Linked DNA regions of Homo sapiens: regions 1 and 3 are each linked to region 2. The links come from fine-mapping of genetic effects on gene expression. A gene starts in region 2. Each other region holds a variant in brackets. All regions are shown on one strand. Distances are between the middles of the regions.

Evidence for each region. PIP is the estimated chance that this variant, and not a neighbour inherited with it, causes the effect.
Region 1: its variant is fine-mapped to the expression of PIGT in whole blood (TOPMed, PIP above 0.99).
Region 3: its variant is fine-mapped to the expression of PIGT in whole blood (TOPMed, PIP above 0.99).

The regions. Positions count from the first base shown.
Region 1 is chr20:45,309,437-45,319,909 of GRCh38, forward strand. RBPJL (recombination signal binding protein for immunoglobulin kappa J region like) reads left to right here. Exons shown (of 12, transcript NM_014276.4): 3 at 131-256; 4 at 2,153-2,223; 5 at 2,403-2,518; 6 at 2,785-2,959; 7 at 4,032-4,169; 8 at 4,599-4,708; 9 at 4,977-5,129; 10 at 6,751-6,906; 11 at 7,041-7,144; 12 at 7,250-8,388. The coding sequence ends at 7,523. Among named protein-coding and RNA genes, the nearest start is that of MATN4, 6.4 kb to the left of the region's middle. RefSeq lists a silencer at 2,187-2,236. The variant C/A (reference allele first, on the strand shown) is at 4,938.
Region 2 is chr20:45,412,086-45,422,071 of GRCh38, forward strand. It overlaps PIGT (phosphatidylinositol glycan anchor biosynthesis class T), which reads left to right and starts at 4,056. Exons shown (of 12, transcript NM_015937.6): 1 at 4,056-4,258; 2 at 4,432-4,609; 3 at 6,767-6,894; 4 at 7,210-7,310; 5 at 7,419-7,505; 6 at 8,051-8,138; 7 at 8,247-8,344; 8 at 8,443-8,608; 9 at 9,298-9,498. The coding sequence starts at 4,072. It overlaps LOC107985405 (a long non-coding RNA gene), which reads right to left and starts at 6,298. Exons shown (of 2, transcript XR_001754640.2): 1 at 6,129-6,298; 2 at 1-4,732. RefSeq lists an enhancer at 7,525-7,584.
Region 3 is chr20:45,350,865-45,361,337 of GRCh38, forward strand. No RefSeq gene overlaps it. Among named protein-coding and RNA genes, the nearest start is that of SYS1, 7.1 kb to the right of the region's middle. The variant G/A (reference allele first, on the strand shown) is at 4,006.

The DNA of each region.
Region 1 (10,473 bases), 100 kb before region 2:
AGCAGCCCCACCCTCCCACTCACTCTAACCCCCTGCTCACTTCATTTTACTCAACCTGAGTGCTTGGACCCTGTGCCACCTTGACCCTTCTCCCTCCTGTGGCTGGTCGACCTGCCTGCCCTACTCCCAGGTCATCCCCAGAGCACACCACCATTCTGAGGGGAGGCGTGCGCAGGTGCCTGCAGCAACAGTGTGAACAGACTGTGCGGATCCTGCATGCCAAGGTGGCCCAGAAATCATACGGAAATGAGAAGCGGTAGGTGCCTCCGCAGCCCCTCCCAGGTCTCTGCAACTGTCAGCCCTATGCACCTCCTCCATCCACCCATTGGGCCTCTTTTAGACGCAGAGCAGGCCTCAGGGCTGAGATCTCAGCTATTGGTCGACCAGGGCCTTGACCCTCAGCCACCATTAGCCCCCACTTTGGTCTATAGTTCTACAGCAGGAGATTCCCTGTGAATCTCCTGTCTCCATTCATTCACTCATTCTCCCATTGATTCACTTATTCATTCATTCAACAACTACTTACTGAGTGTTTGTCATGTATGCACCAGGCTCTGTGGGTACTGCTGGGCACTGGGCATACAGCTGAACAAGACAGAAACAGCCCCTGCTCTGTAGCCCACACTCTCACTCAAGTGTGGAAGAGACAGACAGTAAACTCCCCACAAGTCAGGAAACAAGATACTTGCAGATTATGATGAGCACTAGAAGGAAAACTGAACGAGGCCATTTGACGGAAACTGAAGGCAGGGGGGACATTAGCTAGAAAGGTCAAGGAGGTTGAGAGACCTTTTGGGAGGTAACATTGGAACTGAAACTTGAATGCTGAAATGGAGCCAGACAGGAGAATATCTGGGGAAAGCGTGCTACAATTAGAAGGAACAGAAGGGCCGGGCGCGATGGCTCACACCTGTAATCCCAGCACTTTGGGAGGCCGAGGCGGGCGGATCACCTGAGGTCAGGAGTTCGAGACCAGCCTGGCCAATACAGTGAAACCCCCTCTCTACCAAAAAATACAAAATTAGCTGGGCATGGTGGCGGGCACCTGTAATCCCAGCTGCTCAGGAGGCTGAGGCAGGATAATTGGTTGAACCCGGGAGGCGGAGGTTGCAGTGAGCCGAGATCATGCCACTGCACTCCAGCCTGGCGACAGAGCAAGACTCAGTCTCAAAAAAAAAAAGGGCAACAGAAAATGGGAAGACCTTGAGGCTGTACCAATTAGGCCTGTTTGAGGTACAAAAGAAATGACAGTGGCTGAAATCAGAGGGAGGAGTTGTAGGAAACAAGTCAGAGAGGTAAGCAGGGGTCAGATCTCAGGAGGACTTTGAATTTTAAACCAGTGGAGGATTTTAAGGAGTTAACATGATTTGACTCATGTTTTTAACAAAACACTCTGGCCAGCCTGGTGGCTCATCCCTGTAATCCCAGCACTTCGGCAGACCCAGGTGGGCAGATTGCTTGAGCCCAGAAGTTCCAGACCTGCATGGGCAACATGACAAAACCATGTCTGTACAAAAAACACAAAAATTAGATGGGTGTGGTGGCTTGTGTCTGTAGTCTCACCTACTCAGGAGGCCGAGGTGGGAGGATCAGTTGGGGAGGCAGAAGTTGCAGTGAGCCCAGACAGCCGAGATCAAGTTACTGCATTCCAGCCTGGGCAACAGAGCAAGACCCTGCCTCAAAAAAAAAAAAAAAGAAAAAGAAAAAGAAAGAAACAGGAAGGAAGGAATGAAAGAAAAAAAGAAAGAAAGAGAGAGGAAGGAAGGAAGGAAGGAGCACTCTGGCTGCTGTGCGAAATGGGAAGGAGATAGAAACAGAACTTTCTGGAAATAGACCAGTTTGAAGGCTGATGCTGTGGTCCAGGCAAAAAGTAATGGCGGCTGGGATGAAGGGCGAGGTGGTAAAAAGCCAGTGGATTCTGGATATATTATATTTTGAAGGTGGAGTGGACAGGACCTTCTGATGAGTTGAATGAGGGGTGTAAAAACAATAAGGTTTGGCTATGAATGGGGTTTACAGTCGTGAAAAAGCGTTGCGGGGAGCGGGAGGAGGAAACGAAGGTTCTGCTGGGTTTATGCTACTACCTTGCCGTGCTTACAGGAGAGCCAAGTGGAGATGGATGCACGACTCCAACACTCACTTATCTCCGCAGGTTCTTCTGCCCCCCGCCCTGTGTCTACCTCTCGGGGCCTGGCTGGAGGGTGAAGCCAGGGCAGGATCAAGGTGAGGGCGGAATCAAGGGCTGCCGGCCGCCTGCTCTGTAGGGAGGACCACGAGATTGGGCCCGAGACGGGGCGGTTCGCAGGCGCAGTCTCCCCGCGCCCTCTGGCGGCGAGCGCTAAGCTTGCCTGGCACCTGCGTCCTCCCGAGTCCTTGCAGAGCCAGTTCGCGTCCCTTTCCAGCTCACCAGGCGGGGGAAACGGGGCCCACGGTCTGCGGTTACATGGGACTGGACAGCGCGTCCGGCAGCGCCACTGAGACGCAGAAGCTGAATTTCGAGCAGCAGCCGGACTCCAGGGTGAGAGCGCACGGGAAGGGGTCCGATTCCTGCTCCCATCCCTGCCTCTCCTGGGAAAGGAGGGCTCCTTTACTCCCCTCCGAAAGCCAAGAGATAGGTGGGGAGACCGGGAGGCCGGGGTCCTGCCTTAAGGCCGAGCCTGAGAGCCTGGATGGTGGAGCTTCTGGTCACCTCCGACGGGGCGGACGTCCGATATCTGGGAGAGGTTGGTTCATCCGACGGGGGAGGGCTGGGATGAGATGGCCCTGTACCTGTGAGCCCCCTAGGAATTCGGCTGCGCCAAGACCCTGTACATCTCAGATGCAGACAAGAGGAAGCACTTTCGGCTGGTGCTGCGGCTGGTGCTGCGCGGGGGCCGGGAGCTGGGTACCTTCCACAGCCGCCTTATCAAGGTCATCTCGAAGCCCTCGCAGAAGAAGCAGTCGCTGAAAAACACCGATCGTGAGCAGGGCGGGGCCTGACCCCCGGCCCGGGCGGGGAGGTGCAACCAAGCCCAGAACGGCTAAACTGGGGCGCGGAGGTGGGGGTAGGCTGGGCTTAGGGGTCAGAGTGGAAAAGGTGGAGTCGGAGCCGAGAGGGGAAGGAGTCTGGATGAGTGGGTGCGGCCCAGGCCTGGGGATGAGAAGAGTTGGAGGATGAAAAGCAGAGAGGAAAGGGACAGATACCAAATTCCAGGTTGGGAGTTGGGGTCCCAGAGCAGACAAAAGTTGAACTAGGCAGGAGTTGAACTAGGGACAGACTAAAAGTGACATAGGTGGGGCACGGTGGCTCATGCCTGTAATCCCAACAATTTGGGAGGCCAAGGTGGGCGGATCAGTTGATCCCAGAAGTTCAAGACTAGCTAGGGCAACATGGCGAAATCTTGTCTGTACCAAAAAAAAAAAAAAAAAAAGAAAAAGAAAAATTAGCCTGGCATGGTGGCCTGCACTTGTTGTCCCAGCTACGTGGGAGGCTGAGATCAGAAGATCACTTGAACCCAAGAGGTCGAGGCTGCAGTGAGCTGTGATAGCACCACGGCAGTCCAGCCTGGGTGACAGGGTGAGATGCTATCTCAAAAAAAAAAAAAAAAAGTTTTACTTTTGTTTGTTGAACTGAAAGATGTCCAGACAGCAAAGGAACAGGCAAAGGTTCCAAAGCAGGACTGCAGCAGGTCCTGGAAAAACAGCTGTGAACTGGGAATGCCCAGTGTATCTAGGCCTGTGGGCACATTAGCCAGGCCGGCACAGGGACAGAAGATTGGAAACTGTCTGGAAAGTCCAAGGAACCAAGCCAGGACAGGGCACTGATAGCACCAACTAACCTTAACCCTCACCCTGACCCCCTCCCTCACCCTAACCCTCACCCTAATCCTAATCCTTACCCTCACCCTCACTCTAACCCTCACCCTAATCCTAACCCTCACCCTCACCCTAACCCTCACCCTAACCCTAACCCCAATCCTAACCCTAACCCTATCCCCTCACCCTAACCCTGACCCTCACCCTCACCCTAACCCTGACCCTCACCCTCACAGTGTGCATATCCTCCGGCTCAAAGGTCTCCCTCTTCAACCGCCTGCGCTCTCAGACGGTCTCCACACGCTACCTCTCTGTGGAGGATGGGGCCTTTGTGGCCAGTGCACGACAGTGGGCTGCCTTCACGCTCCACCTGGGTAATGACATCTGCAGGCCCTGGAGCTGGGCACTTCACATGCATTAGCTTATTTAACCTCCACCACAACTCCTTAAGGAAGGTAAACTCTGCCCCATGTGATTAAGGCTCAGAAACACAAAAAGACTTGACTACAGTCCCAGTGAGCTGGTGACTGTTCCAAGCTATTCTGACTCCCTTATCCATGCCCTTTCCCCATATATCAACTAAGCTGCCTGCCCCCAACCCCTGCCCCCAGGGCAGACATTTGTGAGGATGGCCTCAAATGGCCTCTCCAGAATTAGAACCTTCAGTTGGCTCCCCTGAGTACCAAGCTTTCCCGCAGGGCCCATGTGTGATGTGAGGAAGAGCCAGAGGCAACAAGGCAGGGTTTAAGGCAGAAGCTTGGGGGCCGCTGAAAACCTTGTCCCTTGCTTTTTTTGTCCCCCAGCTGATGGGCACTCTGCCCAAGGAGACTTCCCACCGCGAGAGGGCTACGTTCGCTATGGCTCCCTGGTGCAGCTCGTCTGCACGGTCACCGGCATCACACTACCTCCCATGGTATAGGAAGGGAGGGCATGCCTGGAGGGGTCCCCTCAGATCCATGCAGAGAATGTGGCACACACGGGCAGGGCTGGAGAGTGAGGCCCCAAGGCATGGAGACACCTGTTCTCACCCAGTGTCGCGTAGGACCAGACAGAAGTCAAAGGGCAGGGGGAATCTGCTAGTGCCTGTGTGGCTATTGGAGTAGCAGACAGCCGGCTAGGAGGGCAGCCTCTGGACGCCCGGG[C/A]TCCTTGCCACCACTGTTCTTACCATCCTTCCATTGCAGATCATCCGTAAAGTAGCAAAACAGTGTGCGCTCCTTGATGTGGATGAGCCCATCTCCCAGCTGCACAAGTGTGCATTCCAGTTTCCAGGCAGTCCCCCAGGAGGGGGTGGCACCTACTTATGCCTTGCCACAGAGAAGGTGGTGCAATTTCAGGTAAGAAGCAGAGAATACCAGCACCAAGTGTCCTGGAAAGGGAGAATGCAGAGAACCACAGAATGTAAGATCATCACCCTCACCATGGTTGCTACTTCCTGAGCAGCCTCCCATGGAACATTAAAATCATAGACTCCCAGGACAGAATCATAGGATGTAGAAAAATAGTAATAAGTAATAGTATGAAGCAATATTCCTTCCCAAAGAATTTTAGAGTCATAAAATATTGGGATATAGCCAGGTGCGGTGGCTCATGCCTGTAATCCCAGCACTTTGCGAGGCTGAGGTGGGCAGAACACCTGAGGTCAGGAGTTCGAGACTAGACTGGCCAACATGGTGAAATCCCATCTCTACTAAAAATACAAAAATTAGCTGGGCATGGCAGTGGGCGCCTGTAATCTCAGCTACTCAGGAGGCTGAGGCAGGAGAATTGCTTGAACCTGAGAGGTGGAGGTTGCAGTGAGCCAGGATCACACCATTGCACTCCAGCCTGGGTGACAAGAGCAAGACTCCATCTCAAAAAAAGTAAGTAAATAAATTGGGATATAAAATTGTAGGATGTAAATAAAAATCATGATAGGTAATAGAGAGCAGAGAATTAATGAGCAAAGACTATTCGAAGCACAGATAAAGACACAGAATGTGGAAAATTATAGAATGTGGAAAATAATAATTATCGTTAAGCAGTAGTACTCCCAAAAGAATATTATCATAGAATGTTACGAGATAGAATTATAATATGTGGAAAATAGCAAGTATTATTCCTTCCCCAAGAATATTCCTTCCCAAAGAATATTAAAATTGTAGATTATTAGAGCATAGAATTGCACAATGTTAAAAAAAAAAAAATTCTGGAATCCCAAGAAAAAAGACCCTTAGAAATCAGCTATCCCAGGCCGGGCCAATGGCTCATGCCTGTAGTCACAATACTTTGGGAGGCTGAGGCAGGAGGATCACGAGGCCAGGAGTTTGAGACCAGCCTGGCCAACATGGTGAAACCCTGTCTCTACTAAAAATACAAAAAAATTATTTGGGCGTGGTGGCTGGCACCTGTAATCCCAGCTACCCGGGCGCCTGAGGCAGGAGAATCATTTGAACCCGGGAGGCGGAGGTTGCAATGAGCCAAGATCAGGCCATTGCACTCCAGCCTGGGCGACAGAGCGAGATTCAGTCTCAAAAAAAAAAAAAGGAAGAAAGGAAGGAAGGAAGGAAGAAGAGAGAAAGAGAGAGAGAGAAAGAAAAAGAAAGAAAGAAAGAAAAGAAAGAGAAAGAAAAGAAAAAGAGAAAGGGAAAGAAAGAAAAGGAAGGAAGGAAAGAAAGAAAAAGAAAGAAAGGAAAAAAGAGAGAGAAAGGGAAAGAAAAAGAAAAGGAAGGAAGGAAGGAAAATAAAGAAAAAAGAAAGAAGAAAGAAGAAAGAAGAAATCAGCTAGCTCAACAAGCTTTCTTAACGCTAAGTGAGAGAACTTAAGGGCACTGTCCAAGCTGAGGGGACAAGTGAACCCCAGAGCCTAGGATTAGTATCCAGTTCGGTCTAACGCAGAAGCCCACGCGCCATGCTGGCTCCCTACACTGGTGGCCACCATGAGAAGCTTCGGCCTCGTCCCCTTGGGTCTCCTCCCAGGCCTCTCCCTGCCCCAAGGAGGCGAACAGGGCTCTGCTTAACGACAGCTCTTGCTGGACCATCATCGGCACCGAGTCGGTGGAATTTTCCTTCAGCACCAGCCTGGCGTGTACCCTGGAGCCGGTCACTCCGGTGCCTCTCATCAGCACCCTAGAGGTGAAGCCGGGCGCTAGGGGCGTTGGGCAGGGGGACCCTGCCTGCACTGGGCAGTGGTGGTGCTAGTGAGTGGGGGGCAGCGGGTTCCCGCCCTACTTGGTTCTCTCACCTCACCTGGTCCCACCCTCCCCCAGCTGAGCGGCGGGGGCGACGTGGCCACGCTGGAGCTCCACGGAGAGAACTTCCACGCGGGGCTCAAGGTGTGGTTTGGGGACGTGGAGGCAGAAACCATGTACAGGTACGGGGTGGTGAGGCAGCCTCTCTTGGGCCCCGGGGAGCAGGGGAAGGGGGTGCACGCGTCGTCGGAGTCGCCGCAGCCCTCACCCTGGTGCTCCACCCCCAGGAGCCCGCGGTCCCTGGTGTGCGTGGTGCCGGACGTGGCGGCCTTCTGCAGCGACTGGCGCTGGCTGCGCGCTCCCATCACAATCCCCATGAGCCTGGTGCGCGCCGACGGGCTCTTCTACCCTAGTGCCTTCTCCTTCACCTACACCCCGGAATACAGCGTGCGGCCGGGTCACCCCGGCGTCCCCGAGCCCGCCACCGACGCCGACGCGCTCCTGGAGAGCATCCATCAGGAGTTCACGCGCACCAACTTCCACCTCTTCATCCAGACTTAGGCGCGCCCGGTAGCCCCGGCTGCCCACCCTGGAGGGCTGCGCCCGCGCCAGGCGCGGGGACGTGTTTCTGGGTTCTAGGCCCTGCTTCCTTGCCCCTTTGCTGCAGAAGGGCAGCTGAAGGCTCACCCTAGAAACCGGGCCTGGTGGGTCTTACCCGGCTCACTCCCTCCCTTGTCCTTACACATACAGGAAGACAAGACCTGAGTGGTGCTGTCTTTGTGTCCGTCGTGTATGGCTCTCCCTGTCTTCATTTCTTCTCACTCTGTCTCTAAACCTCTCTCTCTCTCCCTTCCCCCTCAGTACTTAGTCTACAGACCTATGTGCGTGTCCCTATCCTTCTGTCCTTTTCTCTCTTCAGCTCTCCCTGCCTCTCACACACAATTTTACATGCCCCGAGGAGCCAAGTTTGGGACATTTACCCTCCAGGCATCTGTGTCCCCTCTTGAAGAGAAAACACACAGCTTCACACATCCAGGCATAGGGGGCAAGCTCTTGGGGCATCAGGACCCTGGAGCACCAGGTCCTTCCTGGAATATTAGATCCACCTGGAGCACCGGGTCTCTCTAAGTCTCACCTGGGGAATTCGGTCCCACCTGGGGCACCAGTTCCCACCTAGAGCACTGTGTCCTGCCCTAGAGCACAAAGACCTGCTCCTCCCGAGACTCTCTCTGACTGCAGCCAGGCATAGTACCTTTGCCTGTGTTTGCTCCCTGGTCCACAGATTTGGTGGCTGGGCAGGTGCCTGGACAGTGATGAGGTCTTGCCGCCTTAACTGTCCCCCCCAGTCACTTCTCCCACAGGCCCAGCAGGACGCAGTCCTGAGGATCAGGGATTCTACAGCTGCATTAAAATCAATCCTATCCAAGGCAGAGTTTGGTCTGTATGAGCCACCTCCCCAAGTGTGCCTCCCCCAACCCTCGCACCAACACACAAAAGAGGGGACCTGCACAGAAAGAAAAGAACCACAAGTCTGATGGAGCAGAGAGCCTACCTTTTGGACGTTTTCTAGAGGAGGAACAGGGTGCAGAGGCAGCTGGCATCCTGAGTCCCTGTCCCTGCCCTGGGGTTGTTACCCTACTAGCTATCTCTCCATCCCAAGCAAGGGTGCACCCCAGGCCCAGAGGTGACCACGGGACCCTTTCAAAACAAAGCTTTCCCAGGATAGCCCTGGGCAGAACTCCTGGGATTGACTGGGCAGTAATGTAGTTGAGAGGGGGGCCTCTCTGCATGGGGCTGATGGACAGAATCACAATCTATTCCCCACCAGCCTACCCACCCTAGGTACCACTCTACCCAGTCTGTGCTTTATAGGGAAGGAAAAAAAAACCAGGCAGAACACTGGCTTGGGCTATTGGAATCAAGGACACAGATAAGTATCATGGGTGCCAGCTACCTGCACCAGCCTCTGGTGGTGCCTGATGGGAAAACTGGTCTGAAATGTGGGTTCTAGGTTCTAACCCTCTGGAGAAGAGCTTGCCCTCCTAAGGAAGAGCTCATTTCTTGTAAAACTCCTCCCCCAGGGTATGGAAAGTCCCATGAGAAAAAAGAAACGAACAATACGCAGAGGAGAGGAAATGGGGTATGTTCTTTAGCCTTCCCAAAGTCTTGACTAAGTTCTGCCATCTGCCATCAGCAGGCTGCAACCCACTGTGAGGGGTGAGGAAGAAGCCTGTGGCCCCTGAAGGTGAATCTTGGCTGAGGAAGGCAGCAAATGAGTTGAATGGGAAATGTCCCTGAAATGAGCGCCTGACTCACCGTCCATGGTGGTGTTGAAGCAGGCAGCCAGGAGGGAGGAGGCTGAGAAGAGTGTCATAGCGCACCACATGGGGAATTGGGGCTCAAGCGCTCATCGTCCAGCCCTGCCCCCAAAGTCTTCCTCCACCACTCCTCAAGGCAGGAGTCCCAGAAGCCAATAATCTAGGTTGGACCAAAAGCCCAGACCCAGCCATACAGCTCTGTCTTAGTCCTCACCCATCTCAGGGGATCCTATAACCTTTGGTGTCCCCAAGGTATCCATCTGGAAGTCTGTGACCAAAGCTCCAGCCCTGGCCTAGCTTCTGAGTTCCAGCTGCTGAAACTGTCCTTGGAGGTCTTCCTTGCACTGAGTCTGAAGCCATCTAACATCAAACTCCTTTCCCTCTCCACCTGCCTTGCAGCACCACCTCTAGCTCCTTCCCCCACACCACCCAGTCACCCAGGCCTAAGGATCCCACCCCCACTTCCACACTACCATATGCCTCCTGTTTTCCTCTCCCTCCACTACTGCCCTGCCAGGTCCTGTGTCGCCTCTTCCAAAATTTCCCAAACTACTCTAGGTAGAACTAGCTATATAATTTGTGGGCCCCAGTGCAAAATGGCCCGTTGTTCAAAAATTATTCAAGAATTTCAATTCGACTGAACACGGGATTAAAAAAAAAAAAAGAACTTCAAGACAGCCACAGGAAATGATGAAACCAAGTGCAGGGGCCTTCCAAGCACAGGCTGCACAACCACGAAGCCAGCCCTGGCCCCAGGCTTTTTTCTTGTATTCCCACAGACCCTCAATGGGACCATATCGACTGCCTGCTTTGGATCAAAGGTTTTACCTACATGCCCATTGTCTCCTCTAGGCTGCCATCTTCATGGGGAAAGGAGCTCTTATCTCTGCATGTCCTAAAGGGTGCATCACAATGCCTCGCATGTTGAGTTGGTGCTCAATAAACAGTGAATTGCATTATATGGCATTGGCAGATATTTAGATATTGCTAATGCAAAGTGAAACCGGCAGGTGGCACTGTTCTCCACCCGAGCATTAAGTTCTCATTTTATTTATATTTAAAAACCGGGCCTTAATCCCAGCCCTTTGGTAGGCCGAGGCGCAAGGATCACTTAAGCCCAGGAGTTCGAGACCACCCTGGGCAACATAACAAGACCCCCTCCCCCATCTCTACAAAAAAATGTAAAAATAGGG
Region 2 (9,986 bases):
AGGAGAGAATGCCCAGGGAGAGAATGCTGAATGAAAGAAGAGGTTATAGGACCCAGTCTTAAGGAACATCAACTCATTTCTCACATTCAAAAAAAAAAAAAAAAAATCAGTCCACCTCCCTTCATACATTGAACATCACCCATGGGATCAGTGACCTTCAGCCAAAATCCTAAAGCTTTTTGTGCCACCCAAGGTTGAGTGACAAGGCTGCAGTCTTCCTATTGTCCCATCCTGCTCTCACCCCTGCAGGAGGCCAGTGTAAGTATCTGTTCCTAAGTGTTTTTCCTAACACTAGTGAGAAACCTGTGGGAACTCCAGGGAAGTAGGAGTGTCCACCAGCCATTCCCTGTCTCTAGGAAGCTTGTGGAGTGAATACCTTCTGTGCAAAAGCCTCTAGGTCCAAGTTGAGATCATCCACTGAGCTGGGCCAGGGCCCAGTCCTCTATTAACTTTTGGGGTTTTTCTGGGTTGCTTATGACCTTGCTGCACATAGAAGACATAATCTCTGTCCTCTTGTGGCTTCTCTCCTTCCTTCCTTTAGAGTAGCAAGGTTCTATCTACCTCCTGTCTGACTGTGGCTGAGCCATCTCTTGGGCTGCGGCCCATGATCCCAATAGCTTTGCTGTGCAGGGCTTCTCAGCTCCCAGGATCACCCCCCTTCCTTCCATGGTGAACGATGAGAAGCTAGACTGGCTTGGTTGCCGTCAACATGTCAATAAATCTCTTAGTAGCCCAGGCACATGATGCGAAGATTGTGGGGAGCCTGCCTTGAGAGAGGGATTTACAGCCCTCTAGAGAAGTAGAATTGTTTCTGAGCCTATGGGGAGCCTTCAGTTTGGCTGCTATGAGCCCCAGCCCTGCCTGGAAAAGTCTAGTGTCAGCTGAGACCCCAGGACTACTTCCTAGTTGGGACAATAACCTTTTCTCCTGCCGAACCACAGGGGCTTGGCTGGCCTTCAGAACCATCATCTCCAGCTGACTGTTTTTTGTTTCTTTGTTTTTTTAAAAAAACTTATGGGGGTTTCAAACGTACAACAAATATAGAAAGAAAAATATCCCAGGTTCTCATCATACAGCTTAAAAAATCATCAAAATAGTACCAAGATTGTATCATCTACCCACCACATATTTTTAGTGGAAAGACATTTATGATAACTCTTGAAAGAAAGAGTAGACTATAAAACACCATATTCAATATGGTCACTTTTTAAAAAAATGATAATCTTCAGATTCACCATTTGATTATAGTGTTGCATTAAAGTTAAACCGTGGTTTATGGCAGCCCAGAGCCTAGCTGTCTGGTTTTTGAGGCCACACAGTGCCTTTGGAGGTGGGAGGAAGATCTGGAGCCAACTCTAAGTCAAGGAGCCCAGCTTTCAGTCTCCAAGCTACAGCGTGGCTTCTGATATTTGCACGGACTTGTCATAGGGTGGACATCCTGACACACTTCGGAAAGGAGGCACCACAGCTCAGAAAAAGTTTCCTTAGAAGGCTTACACTGTAGCAACCCCAGGAGTGCACAGAACTTGACACTGAACAGCATGGCAGAGTAGGGAAAATACAGAACTGTGCTATGATGTCATCTTGTTTGTTCATTCATTCACACATTACTGAGCACCTACTATGTGACAGTCACCTTGCTTAGGCAACAGAAATACTAAGGTGACCATGAGCTCTTCCAGGAGCAGACACAGACACAGGTAATGGAAACAATGTGATGAGAGATGTAGCAGAAGTACATGAAGCCTGTAGACCACTAGAGGAGGAGAAGGTAAGTCTTCACTAGAGGTGGCTGGGTCCTGAATGATGGAGATGGGCAATTTCAAAAGGAAAACAGAGAAGTACAAAATAGTCATAATGATGGCAGCTACCTTTAAAAAAGTATTATTTTGAGGTTTGATAGTGTAGACTATAGTCCTAGCTCCATCACTCATTGTAATCTTTATTATCTTAGTTTATGTACTTCTTAATAATAACACTCAAGCAACCCTATCACTTAGGCACTATTATCTACATTTACATATTAGTGCCTAGGTGACAGGGTTGAGTGTTACTATTAAGCACTTGCTACATTCCATATCCTACATGTACATAATTTCTCATCTTAACAACAACCTTGAAAGTAGGTTTCTTCATTATACAAATGAAGAAAAGTGACACTTGGGTTGATCATGCTCATATGGATTAAAGGCTGGCATAGGGATTTGGACTCCTGTCTTTCTGACATCTAAGCCCATGGCCTTCCTAATATTTCGTGTCTAATGGGGCAGGAACACTGAATGCAGGCAGAATGAAGGCATAATGAGATAAAGACATCTTTCTGACATTTCCTTTCTGGAAATGTCTGGTTGGTTGGCGCATATCTTGGCAGACCTGCCTGACACCAAATTGGCTCTTTCTAGAAGTGTGGTCATGAGTGTCACCAAGAGACTGTTCATGAAATCCTTCATGAATGTGTTTCCCATAGGGCAGGTGGAAAAACTAAAGCATGACTTTAACTTTGGAACTCCGAAAAAGTCAATAAAAAGACAAGCCAGTAAACAAAGGGGTGAGGGTGCAGAAGACTTTAACAGACCTTTCACAAAAAAATAAAAATTAAATTAAAAAATAAATGGCAAATAAGCACATGAACAGATGCTTAACATTTTTAGTTACCAGGGAAATGCAAATTAAAACCACAATGAGCAAACACTACATACATACCCAAGTGGTCAAAACTAAAAAGTACAAAAAATTAGAAACTTCAAATGCTGACCAGGATGTGGTACAATGGAGACTCATAGTTTATGGAAACATAAAATGATACATTTTGGAGAAAGGTCTGACAGTTTCTTATAAAATTAAACATACACCTGCTCTCTGACCCAGCAATTCCACTCTTAAATACCTGGCCAAAGGATATGAGAAATATACGTCTACAAAGGAGCTTGCACAGACAGCAGCCTTGTTAATAATAACCAAAAACTTTAAAAGTGCCCATCAAGAGTTGAATGGATAAATTAATAATACTACGCAGTAATAAAAAGAATTGTGGATACATGCAAGAACATGGATGATTCTCAAAAACATTCTTCCCATGAGAAAAAAAAAAGCCTTACACAGTATACATACTATATGATTTCATTTATATTTAGTTCTGGAACAGATTAATCTATTGTGGGAAAAAATCAGGGTACTAACTGCCTCTGGAAGGTGATAGAGGAGCAGGGATTGACTAGGAAAGGGTATTGCTAATTTTCTGGGGTTTTAGGAATGTTCTGTATCATGATAGGAGTTCGGGTTACATAGGTGTGTGCATTTGTCAAAACTCAGTGAATGTGTACTTTGGATTTGTGCATTTCACTGTATGTGAATTTTACATCAAAATGCAATCGAATACTGAACTCTAGTTAATTATATGCATGCTTAACTACTTAAAGGAAAGTGTACTAATGTCTGCAATTTACTTTGAAGTGCACCAAAACACAAGATGGAATGATGGATGTATAGACAAATATGTGGTAAAGTACAAGTATAGTATAATGTAAATAGTAGAATCTAGGTGGTGGAAAATAGGTTTATTGTAACAGGTGCTCATTCTTTCAATTTTGTTTGAACATTTTCGTAATAAAAGAACCACTTATTTGGGGGTTTTGCAGCAAATGGAGACACTAGAAGCTAAGAGGGGCAGGAGGTTCCTCTTACTTTGGGAAATGCAAATTAAAACCACAATGGTTTTCCCAAAAGTAATTGATCTTTTTCAGTCAATGTTTCCTCAACTATCAAATGGGTAAAATGGCAGTGAAGGAGCTTCATATTATTAAGCATTTCCTGGTGGGTGGAATACGCCATGAACTAGGTGCGGCCTCAAGCTGGTTACTCGCCCTGCCTACTCCCTCTCGTGTCCTCCCAGTACCCCCTTAGACCCACCAGCTCTGAGGGAATCTTCGCGACCTGCGCAGGCGGTCGCTCTGATAACCGCATCCCGGTTTCCGGGACGACAGCGGAAGTCACTTCTCACACGCCTTTCTTATTGGATACCGGCTTTTCATGGGGCCGAGCGCCGCTGGGTAGGCGGAAGTAGCCGCAGGCATGGCGGCGGCTATGCCGCTTGCTCTGCTCGTCCTGTTGCTCCTGGGGCCCGGCGGCTGGTGCCTTGCAGAACCCCCACGCGACAGCCTGCGGGAGGAACTTGTCATCACCCCGCTGCCTTCCGGGGACGTAGCCGCCACATTCCAGTTCCGCACGCGCTGGGATTCGGAGCTTCAGCGGGAAGGAGGTGAGGGCGCGAGATCTGACCAGGGAAAGATTTCCGTAGTGCCTGCTGGCTGGCCGGCCGTGGGATGAAGGCAAACTTTGGGGGCGGGGCCTAATTCCTGGGTAGAGTTCGGGATCCTGGGTGTGGACCCCGACGAGGTGGGGATCGTCACTCACCTGCTCCCGTTTCCCCAGTGTCCCATTACAGGCTCTTTCCCAAAGCCCTGGGGCAGCTGATCTCCAAGTATTCTCTACGGGAGCTGCACCTGTCATTCACACAAGGCTTTTGGAGGACCCGATACTGGGGGCCACCCTTCCTGCAGGCCCCATCAGGTGCAGAGCTGTGGGTCTGGTTCCAAGACACTGTCACTGAGTGAGTGCACACCTTGGGCCCTGTTGCAGGCCATGGAGGGAATGTGGCTGGGAGAGTGTTGTCATCCTGCCACTGCTCTTGGGGACAGCACTTCCAGTAGGCAGCGATTCCATGGGGGTAGAGCTGGCATTGGAAGTAAGAAATGTTACCACAGATGAATAAACTTCCCAATCCTAAAACTTTCAGACCTGAGGTAGCACATGCATATCCCTGGAGAGGCAAATAGCAAACAATTAATGCTTATTTGGAGGTAAGGCAGTAGAAAACTGGCAACTGGATAACCTTTTAAAAGGCATTCATTAATATTTTTTAAATGATAATAAATACCACGAAAGCCAACCATAACATATCTGTGGGTTACAACTGGCCAACAGGATGCTACATCACAGTGTTAGAGGAACTGCTTTTGTTTGGGAGGGGGCAGGTCTAGTTACTGTGCCTACTACAAACCGCTATTTCCCAGTGGCTGCTGTGGCTATCCTGTTTAGAATAGAACCTTTCTGTGCAGTGGTTGCAAACAGGTCTACATGGGCCACACAGGTAAGGAATGAATAAAGGTATTTTTAAAATTGACAAACACAGGAATGAGAAATATATCTCATTTTCCTCTTAATCCCACTATAAGAAATCAATAGTGCAAGTATGATATAACAAGTTTTAGGGCAATAAAAAGGAGCAGCAGGAATTGTGGCAGGCTAGAGAGTTTGTGTGACATTCTAACGAGGACAGCTCTGCCACTCAGCTTCTATGGATTGTTGCCATGTGGGAATAGAGGCCTAATGTGGTCAGAGTCAAATGTTTCTAAAAATTTTTTGTAGAAACAAGGTCTCACTATATTGCCCAGGCTGGTCTCGAACTCCTGGGTTCAAGCGATCCTCCTGCCTCAGCCTCCCAAAGTGTTGGGATTACAGGCAAGAGCCACCACACCTGGCCTCATTTTTCAAGAGATACCAGAAATCTGGAATTTAATGTGAAAATTGGCAAATTCAAATATCAGCAAGTAATTTAAAAATTTTTTGAGTGCTGTGCGGGTCAATGTTGTGCATACCAAATGAAGCATGTTTATGGTTTGAGTAGAGCTTTCCGGCTTCAAGTTTGCCATTTTTATTTGAGGCTTAAGGATTGGAGCAGTTGAAAAGCTCTGAACATAGAATTATCAAAAGCTCCTGGACAACACTAAGGAATAAGGAATAAGCAGTAACTCCCCAGCTTGCCAAGACTTTCTCTCTTGCCTCAACTCTGGCTCCCCTACCCTTTCCTGTCTACTCTGCTGTCACTGTCTTCCCTCAGCCCGTAATTGCCTGAAATGTGGAGCAAATGCTTAGAATTCTTTCTAGTGCTTATTAAGTTTTATGCTTTCTCTATTACTGAGAGCAAATCTCTTTTGATATTTCTCCAAGAAAAGAACATTAATTTAATTTGATGTTTTTATGAAATCCTAGAACAGTTGTTTTTCCCATGTTCAGTGAGCTTTTTTGGATATAAGACTTCTCACCATGATAGTAGAATCAGGACTTACCTTTATTCCCAGAGTATACACAGGGTAGTATGCATTGTTTTGCCCAGCCCAGCACATTCAAGGAAGATCAGTGAGCTCATTTCAGCTCTGATACATGAGGCGCTTTCCATGGTGTCAGGGGAAGTACATAGATGACCCAGACTGGTCCTTGTCCTCAAGTTGCTTACAGCCTAGTTAGGGAGAAAAGGTGGTCAGGACACGATGCTGCTGCCACCTAGCCATCTCCCAGGAGGGACCTAGTAAGATGCTTGGATGGTCAGAACCGTGACTGCACAGAGGAGACTGTGCTTAAGGAGGGCAGGAAAGGCTTCGTGGAGGGGAGGTAAGCACTGGAGCCGGATCATGAAGGTAGGCAGAAAGAAGTTAGCAAAGGCTTGCAAGGAAGGAAGAATCACCTGAGCAGAGACCCATGGGGATGCAGAGATGTCCAGAGGAGAGTGAGGAAGAAGGGGCTGAGTAGGATGAGACCCAGCAAGTGGGCTGGCTGGGGGCAGCAATGTTCCAGCTCCATCAACTGGCCCGTCTAATAGTTAAGAATACAGCCTCCTCCTATCATAGGTTTAGCAGCCAGCTGTGGACTTTGAAAGAGGGAGCAGAGGTAGCCCCAGGACAGTGAGTGGATTTGTGTCTCTATCCAGTGTGGATAAATCTTGGAAGGAGCTCAGTAATGTCCTCTCAGGGATCTTCTGCGCCTCTCTCAACTTCATCGACTCCACCAACACAGTCACTCCCACTGCCTCCTTCAAACCCCTGGGTCTGGCCAATGGTGAGATAACCCCTACAGCCCTTTCCTTCTTCCTCTTACCTCCTGCCCAAACCTTTGCCTCCTTTTCCCTCAGTTTCCTGCTTCCTCAGCCTGGGCTAGATCCTAAGTCCCCTGTGTGTGCAGGCCCCCAATACTGTGCCATCTCTGCATGCCTTTTCCCAAGGAGAGAAGGGAGTCCTACTCCCAGTTGGGACTGTCCAGACTGTGGTGCTAGAGGTGGTGTGGGGAGCAGGAGGGTCATTCCCATCTCTGGAATGTGGATCCCGAGGGGTCAGAGCCCAAGGCCCACCCCAGACAGACCTCTGTCTCCCTCAGACACTGACCACTACTTTCTGCGCTATGCTGTGCTGCCGCGGGAGGTGGTCTGCACCGAAAACCTCACCCCCTGGAAGAAGCTCTTGCCCTGTAGTTCCAAGGTGAGGCCGCAGAGCCTGGCAGCCGGGGGCGGGGGGTGTATAGAGAACCTGCGCCCCATGCCAAGTGCTCCATACAGGGCTTCTCTTATCTCTTTCCATCTCCTCCAGGCAGGCCTCTCTGTGCTGCTGAAGGCAGATCGCTTGTTCCACACCAGCTACCACTCCCAGGCAGTGCATATCCGCCCTGTTTGCAGAGTAAGTCATGGGGAGTAGAGGAAGCTGCCATCCAGGGGCTCAGAGAAGGTACATGTAAAGCATGTGGTCAGTGTCTGGCTCAGGCTGAGTGAGTACTGAGTGGTAGATGTGATGACGGTTATTCAGGGCATTGGCCAAGCACCAAGAAAACAGTGGTTGCCTAGCAAGCACTGAATAAATATTTGTCATGGAAAATAGTGGTTCAGAACAATAGCTATGCGGGTGCAATTGCTAGCTCAGTCACTTGCCAGCTGGCGTAACCTTGGGTGAATCATTTCATTCCCCTGAGCTTGGTTTCCCACCCTGCCACATGACATTGATAGTAGAATCCACTCCTAGGGTTGTTGTGATAGTTTATCAAACTGATGCACATACAGCTGTCAGCACGGGGTCTGGCACGAGGTCAAGTGCTCAGGAGTGGGTGGTAGCAAATCGATGGATGTGAAGATACATAGATGAGGGATTGAGTCTGAGTAGGAGTCTTTTTGGGGGCTGTGTGGTGAGAGTGATACCCCCTCACTGCTGCCATCTGGCCCTTGTGATAGAATGCACGCTGTACTAGCATCTCCTGGGAGCTGAGGCAGACCCTGTCAGTTGTATTTGATGCCTTCATCACGGGGCAGGGAAAGAAAGGTAAGTTACCTTGGCAACTCATCTGTACCCACCCATGCCAGCCCTGCCTTATCTATGTGGACTAGGCCTAGGCCTGGCCCCTGCTCAGCCCTGCGCTCTGTTTCTCAGACTGGTCCCTCTTCCGGATGTTCTCCCGAACCCTCACGGAGCCCTGCCCCCTGGCTTCAGAGAGCCGAGTCTATGTGGACATCACCACCTACAACCAGGTAACAAGGTCTCCAGCCACACACACAAACACACCGCTGGTCCCCAGGACCAGCCTACCCTCTCTGCTTGCTTCTTAGCCCTGCCTTTGTGTCCCCAGGACAACGAGACATTAGAGGTGCACCCACCCCCGACCACTACATATCAGGACGTCATCCTAGGCACTCGGAAGACCTATGCCATCTATGACTTGCTTGACACCGCCATGATCAACAACTCTCGAAACCTCAACATCCAGCTCAAGTGGAAGAGACCCCCAGAGAATGGTGAGTGGGTGGTTGGTTGGACTGCTGGGTTGCAACGGCTACAGAGAAAAGACTCACAATCCCACGTCTTTGCCGTTAGATGATTGGGTTGTATTTAGACCAGATTTCCAGAGTCATATGCTGCTGACTGTAGCTATTCCAAGCTCTACGATTTTGGGTAGGTTCCTAAACTCCCCAAGCTTCAGCATCCACATCTGAAAAATAGAGTATACTTAGCAAATTGGATGAGATGATGTGAAAAATGGAGTTAGTTCATGCATTTGCTTAATCAACCAAATACTTTTGAATTCATACTAAGTGCCAGGCATAGAGTGTTGAATAAGACAGAGGACACTGCACTCAAGAAATATAAGTCTACTAGCTAGGGCAGGTGTCAGTTAATTAATTACAGTTGTGTTCAGTTCCCTTACCAAGGGAAAGAGCAGAATATCCTGAGAGGACCTGGATTGGGTTCGAAGGGGGCACGGTGTTCGTCACGTAAGCACTTCAATACTAGCAACCTATTGTCATCATCGCTTGTTGGCTGGGGAAGACAGGGATGATTCCAGAACCCAGATTGCCCAGTTTCAGTGGCAGGGCTGTTCCCCATCTACTCACTGGCTTGGGACTCTGAACATGGCCTGGGCAGGTGGGGTGGGGAGTGATTCTTACCTTTGGCAGCTGTTAACTGTTGATATTTCTTTACACAGAGGCCCCCCCAGTGCCCTTCCTGCATGCCCAGCGGTACGTGAGTGGCTATGGGCTGCAGAAGGGGGAGCTGAGCACACTGCTGTACAACACCCACCCATACCGGGCCTTCCCGGTGCTGCTGCTGGACACCGTACCCTGGTATCTGCGGCTGTATGTGCACACCCTCACCATCACCTCCAAGGGCAAGGAGAACAAACCAAGTGAGGACCTGAGTCCTGAACCAGGCCCCCAGCCCGCCCTCTCATGTCCTCTCCAGGTCCCCCAAACTCTCATTTCCCAGGGTAGTTCCTGAAGTACCTCTGAAAAGCTACACAGGCATAAAGAGTAAGGAATAGTTTCTCAAAACTGGAACGGGAGCCTCACTGTGCCAGGTTCAGAAGTAATTTATAAAACAGCAATAATTAAAACACATAATACTGGTGATTCTTAATAGGACTGTACAAGGACAGTAGCTTCCTTTTTCACTTACTTTTGCCTCCTTTCTGGAGCATTGGGTTTTGTGATGATTCATAGACTCTTTAAGGTAGGGAAAGGGTTTGGCAACGTTAGGCTTTTGAAGCTAGGAAGATAGCAGAGCTGGAGTAGATGGTGTTTTGCTTCCTTGGGAGGGGTAAAGAGGTACAGTTAATTAAATTTTTTTATTTCTATTTTTATTAAAATTTATTTTTATTTTCTATTATTTTTCTAA
Region 3 (10,473 bases), 61 kb before region 2:
CAAAAGCATGGATAACAGTAAAGTGTAGTGAGATAATTAGTAAGTGATGAGTTTTGAGTATTTATTTCCTTTATGGTTTTGTTTTTGTTTTTGTTTTTTTGAGACGGAGTCTCAATTTGTCACCCAGGCTGGAGTGCGGTGACGCAATCTCGGCTCACTGCAACCTCCGCCTCCCAAGTTCAAGCGATTCTCCTCAGCCTCCAGAGTAGCTGGGACTACAGGCACACACCACCATGCCCGGCTAATTTTTGTATTTTCAGTAGAGACAGGGTTTCACCATGTTGGCCAGGATGGTCTCGATATCCTGACCTCGTGATCTACCCGCCTCAGCCTCTCAAAGTGCTGGGATTACAGGTGTGAGCAACTGTACCCGGCCTCCTTTTTTTTTAATATAATTGTATGTTCATATAAATTAATTTTTAGTAATAGTTATGTTTAACAACTGGCTAATGACATAAAAAAAAAAGCAACAAAAAAAAAACAGGATCTCTCTCTGTAGCCCAGGCTGGAGTGCAGTGGCAAAATTATGGCTGATTGCAGCCTCAACCTCCCAGGCTCACGAGATCCTCCCACCTCAGCCTCCTGAGTAGTTGGGACTAGACATACGCCACCACGCACAGCTAATTATTATTATTATTGTTATTGTTATTATTATTATTATTATTATTATTTTGGTAGAGACACAGTCTTACTATGTTGCCCAGGCTGGGTTTGAAGGCCTGGGCTCAAGCAGTCCTCTCAACTTAGCTTCCCAAAGTGCTGGGATTACATGGCACCCAGCCACAAAATTTCTAAAAATTGACTTTCATGAACCACTACAAGATGGCTTTACCACACCATGGTTTGACAGCTATAAAAAATGAAAAATAGGAATAAAATTATTGCTAAAACCTGTTTCATTCTAGCAATATTCGTTGAGGTGTTTGTTTGTTTGTTTGTTTTTGACAAAGTCTCACTCCATCACCCAGGCTGGAGTGCAGTGGCACAACCTCTGCTCACTGCAACCTTAGCCTCCTGAGTTCAAGTGATTCTTGTGCCTCAGCCTCCCAAGTAGCTGGAATTACAGGTGCACATCACCATGCCTAGCTAATTTTAGTATTTTTAGTAGAGATGGGGTTTCGCCACATTGGCCAGGCTTGTCTCAAACTCCTGACTTCAAGTGACCCGCGTGCCTCGGCCTTCCAAAGTGCTGGTATTACAGGCATGAGCGACTATACCCAATCTCATGGAGGTTTTAGTGAGCTAATTGGAGAGAAAAATTGCCACAGCCACCTAATTAAGACAGGTATTTCTAAAACAACTTTACTTTTTCTACTTAATAATTATTTATCAAAGTTTGTAGGACTGGTTTAGAGAGTGATGTGATTTGGATGTTTGTCCCCTCCAAATCTCATGTTGAAATGTGATTCCTAATGTTGGAGGTGGGGCCTGGAGGTGACTGGATCCTGGGGCAGATCCCTCATGAATAGTTTAGCATTATCCACTTGGTGATAAATGAATTCTCACTCTCAGTTCACGCTGGATCTGGTTGTTTAAGAGTCTGGGAACTCCACCTTCCCTGTCTCTTGGTCCTGATGATGCCATGTGAGATGTCTGCTACCCCATTACCTTCCGCCATGATTGGAAGTTTCCTGAGCCCCTCGCCAGAAGCAAATGCTGGAGCCATGCTTGTATAGCCTGCAGAACTGTAAGCCAATTAAACCTCTTTTCTTTATAAATTACCCAATCTCATATATTTATAGTAACGCAAACAGCCTAACACAGCAAGCATATATTTATGTCAATTGTATACTTTAAATATGTATAGCTTATTTTATGCCAGTTGTACCTTAATGAAGCTGTTTAAATTATTGCAGGACTTTTTAAAAGAGTCATCAGTAAGCCTCTGACGCATTAAAAAAAAACACATTATGATAAAATTTTGTGGTGGAACATGGAGTAGAAATTTGACTTCAAATAGAAAAAGAAATGATGCAAAATGTCTGACTCTTAGAAAAGAGCTTGTTCATGTATTTTTTAAATGGATGATTGTAGGTATCGAATTGCTAGGGCATTTAATTTAACTGGATACATTTAAAAGAGTGATGTAATTGTTTTACTTTTACGTGTATAAATTTACAATATGCCAGAAATTACAACCTTTGCAACTATTTAAACTTTTGATGAAAAATGTTAAGCTATCAACTAAAAATTATGTCAAGGAGTACCTAGTCTTAAAATAATCATTTACAGAGTACACTAGCAAAAAAACAAAAACAAAAACTGAAAACAGCTCGTTTAGAGAGTTAATGGAAGTTCTTCTATAAAACTATCTTAACCTCCTGGAATTAAGGAAATAATTTCCCCTTCCCCAAGTTCTGAGAATCTCTAAAGGGATGCAACATGTTTGAATATAATTATTTGTGGATGTATGGGTCTTTAACCTGGGCTCCATGACTGGGGGCAGAGGACACATGCATGGTCAGTACTCCTCTAGGTTATGTGTCTCTGCATACATTATTTTGGGGCAAGAAACTTCAGATTCTTTCTTTATATCCACAAAAAGAGGATGTTTGGGGGATCCTCCTTTTGGGTGATCCTGACCCCCAAAGAGTTAAAAATAATTTGTCCAAAACCTGAGATTCTTTGAGAAGTTTTATTGGGTTCTTCTTTGGCCTCCAAAAAACAAAATGCAGTAGTCAAAGGTTTGTAATACTGAATAGGAGTTCCTAATTTCCTGCATGGGGCTGAGGTACAAAAACCCAAACAACCAAACAAAACCCACAGTGTTTACAGCCAGAAGTTCTTCATTAAAATCCTGTTTCCAGGACTTGCCAACTGGAGGAAAGTTTGTGAGTCCCTTTGCTCCTCCCTACAATGGAGATAATTCCCTCTTGAACTAATTAGGAGAATGGAATAAGGTGAAGTGGTGAACACATAACATATACTCACCTATGTTGGGTCCAGCACTCTTTCTGTATATTCTAACCTGAGATTGAGTGAGTCTGAGAGATGGCATTGGTCAAACACTTTACATCCTCCCCCTAGCTTCCTTTCAAGCAAAAGGAAATGATCTAGGACATCAACAGGCAGCCCCCTCCCATGGAGCTAAAAAATGAGCTCAGACCCAGCCTATAGCAGAGGTGGTGTCCCTCCCCCTTTTCTCAGACTTCCTAGGCCGGAGTTAACCAAGGCTAGGTGCACACCTGGTACATCCAGAGACACCTTAAATGCTACCTTCTCCTGGAATCCTCCATCCTCTTCTTTTAATTCTCATTTCTTCCTGCCTTGAGGTTTCTAGGACTCTATCTGTCCCACTCTTTGGGCAGGCATCCCTTTCTCACTCATGTTAGTTTTAGGTGAAGAGCACAGTCTTCAAAGTTAAAGAGACCTAGATTGCAATCTTGGTGGTATGGAGCAAGACACTTTTTCTCTCTGTGCCTCAGTTTTCTCATGTGTCCCCCCATGTAATTTGAGGGTCATTATAGTTCTTAACATCATAAAAATGTTAAGACTACAGTGCTTAGCACAATACGGAGCATCAAAGTGTTATCTATTTTTATAATCAAGGGGGCCTCCCCATAAGAGTCTTGACTTACTCCCCTCCCCAGCAGCTCCTCACACATGGTTAATAACAGGTAACACATTACTATTTTCAGAACAGAAAAAGGATTGGGCCATAGGGCTCTCGCCCAGGATGGTGCCAACCCTTTCTGGTCTTCCTCAGTTTATGTAAATCTCTCTCCAGCTACAGATAATGACAGCTTAGAGTTTCCAGGGGCTGTGGAATGTCCAGCCACTGCCTTGCATAACCACAGAAACTAAGAACACTAGGCCCAGAAGGGTCCTCTCAAATCATTCAGTCCAACAGTACCCGCATTATAAGATAGGCAAACCGAGGCCCACACGGTGAATCAGCATCCACCACAGGCATTTTGAAGAATTCTAAAAATAACACCTCCAATTACTCTTTCCACTTGCTTTGCTTTATTTTTTTGTCGTAACATTTCCCTTACCTGCCATCAC[G/A]CACTTATTCTTTTACTTGTTTATTTTCTGTTTTCTCTGCCACATGTAAGTTTCATGAGGGCAAGAACATTGTTGTGTTCACAACTGCATCCCTTGCACCTTGTCCAAGGTCTGGCAGAGGTTTACATTCAGTAAATACTTGTCGCATGGATAACTGGATGAATGCCATTTGGACATTTTCCCTTAGAGGCTCAGATGTAGCAATTCACTCACTTGGTCATTTATCCAAAAAACATCTGATGAATATCTTGTATGTGAGAAGCTTTTTGATAAATCCTGGTGAACAAGACCTGTCCGTGTTCTTAAGCAGCTCCCTGATTAGCGGACAATAGCTGCCAGCTATACAGTAGACTGAGGATCTACTATATGCCAAGCTGTGGGCTGGCAACTTTATATGCATCTTCTCTGTCTTAGCTCAGTTCTTGCAATTGCGAGGAAACATGCCTCACTCAGGACTCCTTAAGAAAAGGCTTAGGAGTTATTAGGAGGACCGGGAGGGCTAAAGGTTAAAACTGAAAGGGAAACATCAAGGACTGAGATGATGCCACAGACTGGCTGACTCATCTCTTGCTCTTTAAGCCTGCTTATTCTTTCTTTAAGAGTGTCTCTTCTTTTTCCTGGATGTGTGCCTCTCTCTCTTTTACTGACTTACTGGTTCTCTCTTCTAGTCTAAATTTTGGGAGGGGACCACAAGACTCATTGGCTTGGCCAATGGCCTTCCTTATTCCTTAAGTAAGCGCCTGCAGCCCAGACCACTTTTTGGATTACTATTTGGCCTAGAGGTTGAACATTTAGCTTCTCACATACCCTGAGCAGAGTGTATGTTTAATCAGAAGGGAGTGTTGAGCATCATCTTCACTTGGATGCTGTGAAGTAAGTAGTTTTATCTCTATTTTACAGATGAGAAAACAGGCGGAGCAAGGAGAAATGACAACAAAACCGTAACTGTAACAAAGCTGCCCTAACCCACCTGCAAATCTACAATTGAGAAATCCATTTCTGTTGCCCCTGAGATTTGTGGGGTGTTTGTTAAGTAGCAAAAGCTGACTGATACAAGATTCAAACTCAAGTTTCTTTGATTCTGTCTGCATCACCATGCTGTCTCACTGAACTTACAGCCCTGATTCCTGTTCCTGATTCCCAAGTGTCCTGTCCTAAAAGGAGCAGAGATAAATATTGTATTCATCCATTTTCTGATGTTATAACAGAATCCCACACTGTTGGTGTTCTGAGTATACTGACATTCCTTGACGCTAGATTTTATATTGTTGATTGACTTGTTTATCATCTCTCTCCTCTATGAGATTAGAGTATTTTCTCTTTATTCACTTTATTCATTTATATCCATACCACCTGGATCAGTTTCTGGCACATAATAAATGCTCAATGAATATTTATCAAGTAGATGATTGAATGAATAAATAATGATAAAAAGGAAGTGTAAAAAAACAACTTTTCATCTTAAAACAAGGCCCTGAGTCCTTTAAGGTCAGAATAAAGAATAATTTCTAGGTAGGGACAGAAAGTTTAGTACATGATGGATGGGGTCAAGAATCAAGGTAAGAAAACTTGAAGGTGTGAGGCTGGGCACAGTGTCTCATGCCTGTAACCCCAGCCCTCTGGGAGGCCATGGCATGAGGATCACGTGAGCCCAGAAGTTTGAGACCAGCCTGGGCAACATAGTGAGATTCCTTTTCTACATAAAATAAAATAAAAATAGCCAGGCCTGATGGTATGCACCTGTAGTCCCAGCTACTCAGGAGGTTGAGGTGGGAAGATTGCTTCAGCCCCGGAGTGTGAGCCTGCAGTGAGATATGATAGCGCCACTGCACTCCAGCCTGGGTGACAGAGCAAGGACCTGTCTCTAAAATAACAACAAAGGCCGGGCACAGTGGCTTACACCTGTAATCCCAACACTTTAGGAGGCTGAGGTGGGCAGATCACCTGAGGTCAGGAGTTCGAAACCAGCCTGACCAACATGGTGAAACCCCGTCTCTACTAAAAATACAAAATTAGCCGGGCATGGTGGCACATGCCTGTAAATCCTAGCTAGTCAGGAGGCTGAGGTAGGAGAATCACTTGAACCCAGGAGGCGGAGGTTGCAGTGAGCCAAGATCACACCGTTACACTCTAGACTGAGCAACAAGAGTGAAACTCCGTCTTAAAAATAAAATAAAATAAAACAACAGTACAACAATGAAAATAATACAAATAAAAATTAAAATATAGTTTCACAACTATTTACATTGTATTAGATGTTTAGAGATGACTTAAAGAATGTGGGAAGATTGCATAGACTATATGCAAATACTATACCATTTTATATAAAGGATTTGAGCTTCTCTGGGTTTTCATATCTGCCAGGAGTCCTGGAACCAACCACCCATGGATGCTGAGGGATGGCTGTACTCAGAGGTCCTTCCACCCACTGTCATGCCTGGCATCATCCACCCTGCATAGATAGAGGGTTTGCAGAAAACCCCTGATCATTAGACACAGAACACAGAAAACCAGTTTCCTGACTCCCTCTGGTGTGAAGGAAAGAACAGGGAGGTTGGGGTGGAAAGTTAGAGTGGAAAGACAGACACCCCAGATGTTTCTTAACTTTTGATTATTCCAGCTGACAAGACATGCCACACCTCAATGTGTACTGAGTGTGAGTCACTTCCTTCTCTAAGCCTCAATTTCCTTACCTGTAACATGTGGACAATGTTTATACCTACATCCCTGGGGCTGTTGCAACAATAAGATGAGGTCAGGTAGATGAAAGCTGTATGTCACTGTAATGTCCAGTGCCTTTTTTTTTTTTTGAGACAGAGTCTCACTCTGTCACCCAGGCTGGAGTGCAGTGGTACAATCTCAGCTCACTGCAACCTCTGCCTCGCAGGTTCAAGCAATTCTCCTGCCTCAGCCTCCCAAGTAGCTGGGATTACAGGCATGCACCACCACTCCTGGCTAATTTTTGTATTTTTTGTACAGACAGGGTTTCTCCATGTTGGCCAGGCTGGCCGCCAACTCCTGATTGCAGGTGGATCCACCCACCTCAGCCTCCCAAAGTGTTGGAATTACAGGCATGAACCACCTTGCCTGGCCTTCAGTGCGCTTTTTGTTACACACTGAGAAGGAATAGTGTGTGGAGTCAAACTGGCCTGGGTTGGAGTTCAGCTCTACCACTCACTGGCAGCATGGCTCTGGGTAAATGTCCCTTCTCTGAGCCTCAGGATCTGCATGTGTTCAGTGGGGCTATTAATAGTTCTCAACTCACAGGCTTGTTTTAGAAATTAAATAAGGATTAAATTATATAAGTGCCTGTCATACAGTAGATGCTCAGCAAATATTCCTCCCCAAACACAGACACAAACAGCACTTAAAGCAACCTGGGTAACAAAGGGGTTTTCGGTCTGGAGGAGAAACCAGGCAGCTAATGAGCTCTCTCTCCAGTTTTCCTTCTAAGAGAGGAACTCACTGGCCAGAGCCCAGGATGGTCACCGATGTAGAGGACAGGCAGCCAACTCCAAGCCTCCCACGTGGGGTTTCCAAAAACCTGTGAGCACAGAGTTGCATAACGTGTCCCTGAGACACGTGTTTCTACTGAAGTGTCTTCATCAAATATTCCCTGAAAGGAAACATGTGAGCAGGGCAGTAGGGCAGCCTAGCGGGGGAGGAAGGGAGAGGGGGAGGAAGGGAGAGAGGGAGGGATCTAGAGAACACGACAGTAGGGGTGAGAGGAGGAAGAGAAGGTATCACATTTAATGTGCTCTTACTATGGGCCAGCCACCGGGCTTGACTTGTCTGATACATTGTTAGATCCTTGCCATAAATCTGAGATCAGGCATTTCCGTTCCCACATTCCAGAGGAAGAAATAATAACAATCATATTAACATTGCTGAGGTTAACATAGTGCCCACTGCATATCAGGCAGTGGACTAAGCACACATTTGACCCTCAGGACAGCCCATAACATGGGTACTATTCTGAACTCCACTTTATAGAAGAGGAAACCAACTGAGACTCAGAGACATGAAGTAACTTTCCCAAGGTCACCCAGCAGGACAGCAAGACAGCCAGAGAGCCAGGATTCGAATCTAAGCAGGGCTCTCAAGCCTATGGGCCTATGGGAGAACATTTCCCAAGGGATTTATGGGGGTGGATCCAGAAGGTGACCTTAGCGATTGTCCTTACATGCATGCAGTGGGGCCCCAGTGTGAAAGTGACGAAAGAGACCAAGTGACCAGAGGCACTCCCCTCCCCTCCACCCAAAGGACAGTTTGTCCCAGCTTGTGGCTTTTCGTCACTCTGCCTCTGACCTGAAGTTTAACATTTCATTCATAAGTTTGGAACCACAGACTTGGCAGCGTAGGAAGAACCCTCGTAGACCAGCTAGCTATTCAAATCCAATCCCCTCATATTACAGATGGAAGAAAACCCTGAAGCCGGAATGTGACTCGCCAAGGTCACAGAGCAGTTTTCTGTTGGATGAAGGAGCCGGTTTAGGGTCAACTACAGATCATCTTGTGCTGTAGTTATCAAATGTGGGTGCACCTCTGAATCACTTGGGGAGCTCTCTAAATACACAGATTTCCACACTCTGCTTTGGGAGACTTGAACTGGACTTAGGTTTGCAAACAAGGACTGGAAATTTGAATATCCAGTATGTTCCTCAGGTGATTCAGATGGCACAGGGCCATGACAGCATCTGCAAGTCGGAGTCCAATGTCCCTCTTTCATTTGATAGTTTGGGATACTGGGACCCACCAGGGGACTCGCCCAAGGTCACATAGCAAGCCAGTGGGGCTCTAGTTCAGACTCTGTGGTCTGAAGCAGACTGCTTGTGGTCAAATTTGAAAATGGGCCAATGAAGCTAAACAAAGGGGTTGCCATGATTTTCCCCAGCTCTTGGTTTCCTTCTTGGATCCAAATTAAGACGGAGGATGATGTACATTTCCGAAGCTTGGCAAGGCGGGAATCCAAGAACTGAACTCCCAAAGGGGAAAGGAAAGGGCAGGAGGTTAGCTTGCACGCCCAGTGGGGTTTTCCCAGAGGTGAGCTCCGGACTCCAGGGATGACATCAGACATTCCAGCCAGCCCTAATATCAAAAGCTACCTGTGTTTTCTAGTTCAGCAGAATGGGTAGGCAGGGCCTTTCCTATTGGGAGGAGATGGGGTGGAGTGGGCCCAGCTGTGACGTGAAGGGAGCAGAGCCCAGGAAGAGCCACGCATTCCAGCATCTGCAAGGAAGACAGCTGCCCTGGGTATTGTCAACCTCTGCAGCCCTTTTCTAAGCCTTTCCTCCCATTTCTCCCTAATCCCTCACCCCAGGGCTAACTGAGCAGAGAGATTCACTGCCCCTTTTCCACTTCCTGCTACTCCACCACCTATTTTACTATCTCCCTTCCTTTATTTCCCTCTCCCTCCCTCCCTTCCTCCCTTCTTTCCTGTTCTTTTATTCTAAAATGGCATCTTGGCTGGACACAGCGGCTTATGCCTGTAATCCTAACACTTTGGGAGGCCAAGGTGGGAGGATTGCTTGAGCCCAGGGTTCAGGACCAGCCTGGACAACATAGGGATACCCTGTCTCTACAAAAAAATAAAATTAAATGAAAAATCAAAAAAGCCAAGTGCGGGCCAGGCATGGTGACTCATGCCTATAATCCCAGCACTTTGGGAGGCTGAGGCGGGCAGATCACTTGAGGTCAGGAGTCCAGACCAGCCTGGCCACAATGGTGAAATCCCATCTCTACTAAAAATACAAAAATTAGCTGGGCATGGTGGCACACACCTGTAATCCCAGCTACTCAGGAGGCTGAGGCATGAGAATCGCTCGAACCCGGGAGGCGGAGGTTGCAGTGAGCCAAGATCATGCCACTGCACCCCAGCCTGAGCGACAGAGCAAGACTCCGTTTCAAAAAAAGCCAGGTGTGGTGGCACATGCCTGTGGTCTCAGCTATTCGGGAGGCCGAGGCTTGGGCCTGGGAGTTTGAGGGTGCAGTGAGCCATGATTGCGCCACTGCAAACCAGCATGGGTGACAGATTGAGACCCTGTTTCAAAGAACCAAACTAAACCAAACCAAAACTAAACTAAAAGTCATCTTGATGTTTGGAGTCAGTTGTCCTGAATTTGAATCTCAGCTCTGCTCCCTGTGAGCTCTCTGACCTAGAGAGTCACACCACCTCCCCCCAAGCCTAGTTTCCTCCCCTATAAAAAGGGGACAATAGCTATATTTTCAGATTGTGAGAATTAAACAAGATCATGTAGGCACTTAAGAAACAGATGTTTTCTCAGAAACACTAGATCATGTGCATAATCAGTGAACTAGAGGAATTTGAATACATATTTGTTGGACTGAATTGAGGTGCCTAAAAGAATGGTTGAGCTGGAAAGCACCTAAGAAATCTTTGGGCCTTAATAACTCCCCAACTGGAGTCCAGGGGAACTGTTCAGGGTATTTCCAAATGATAAGGACAAT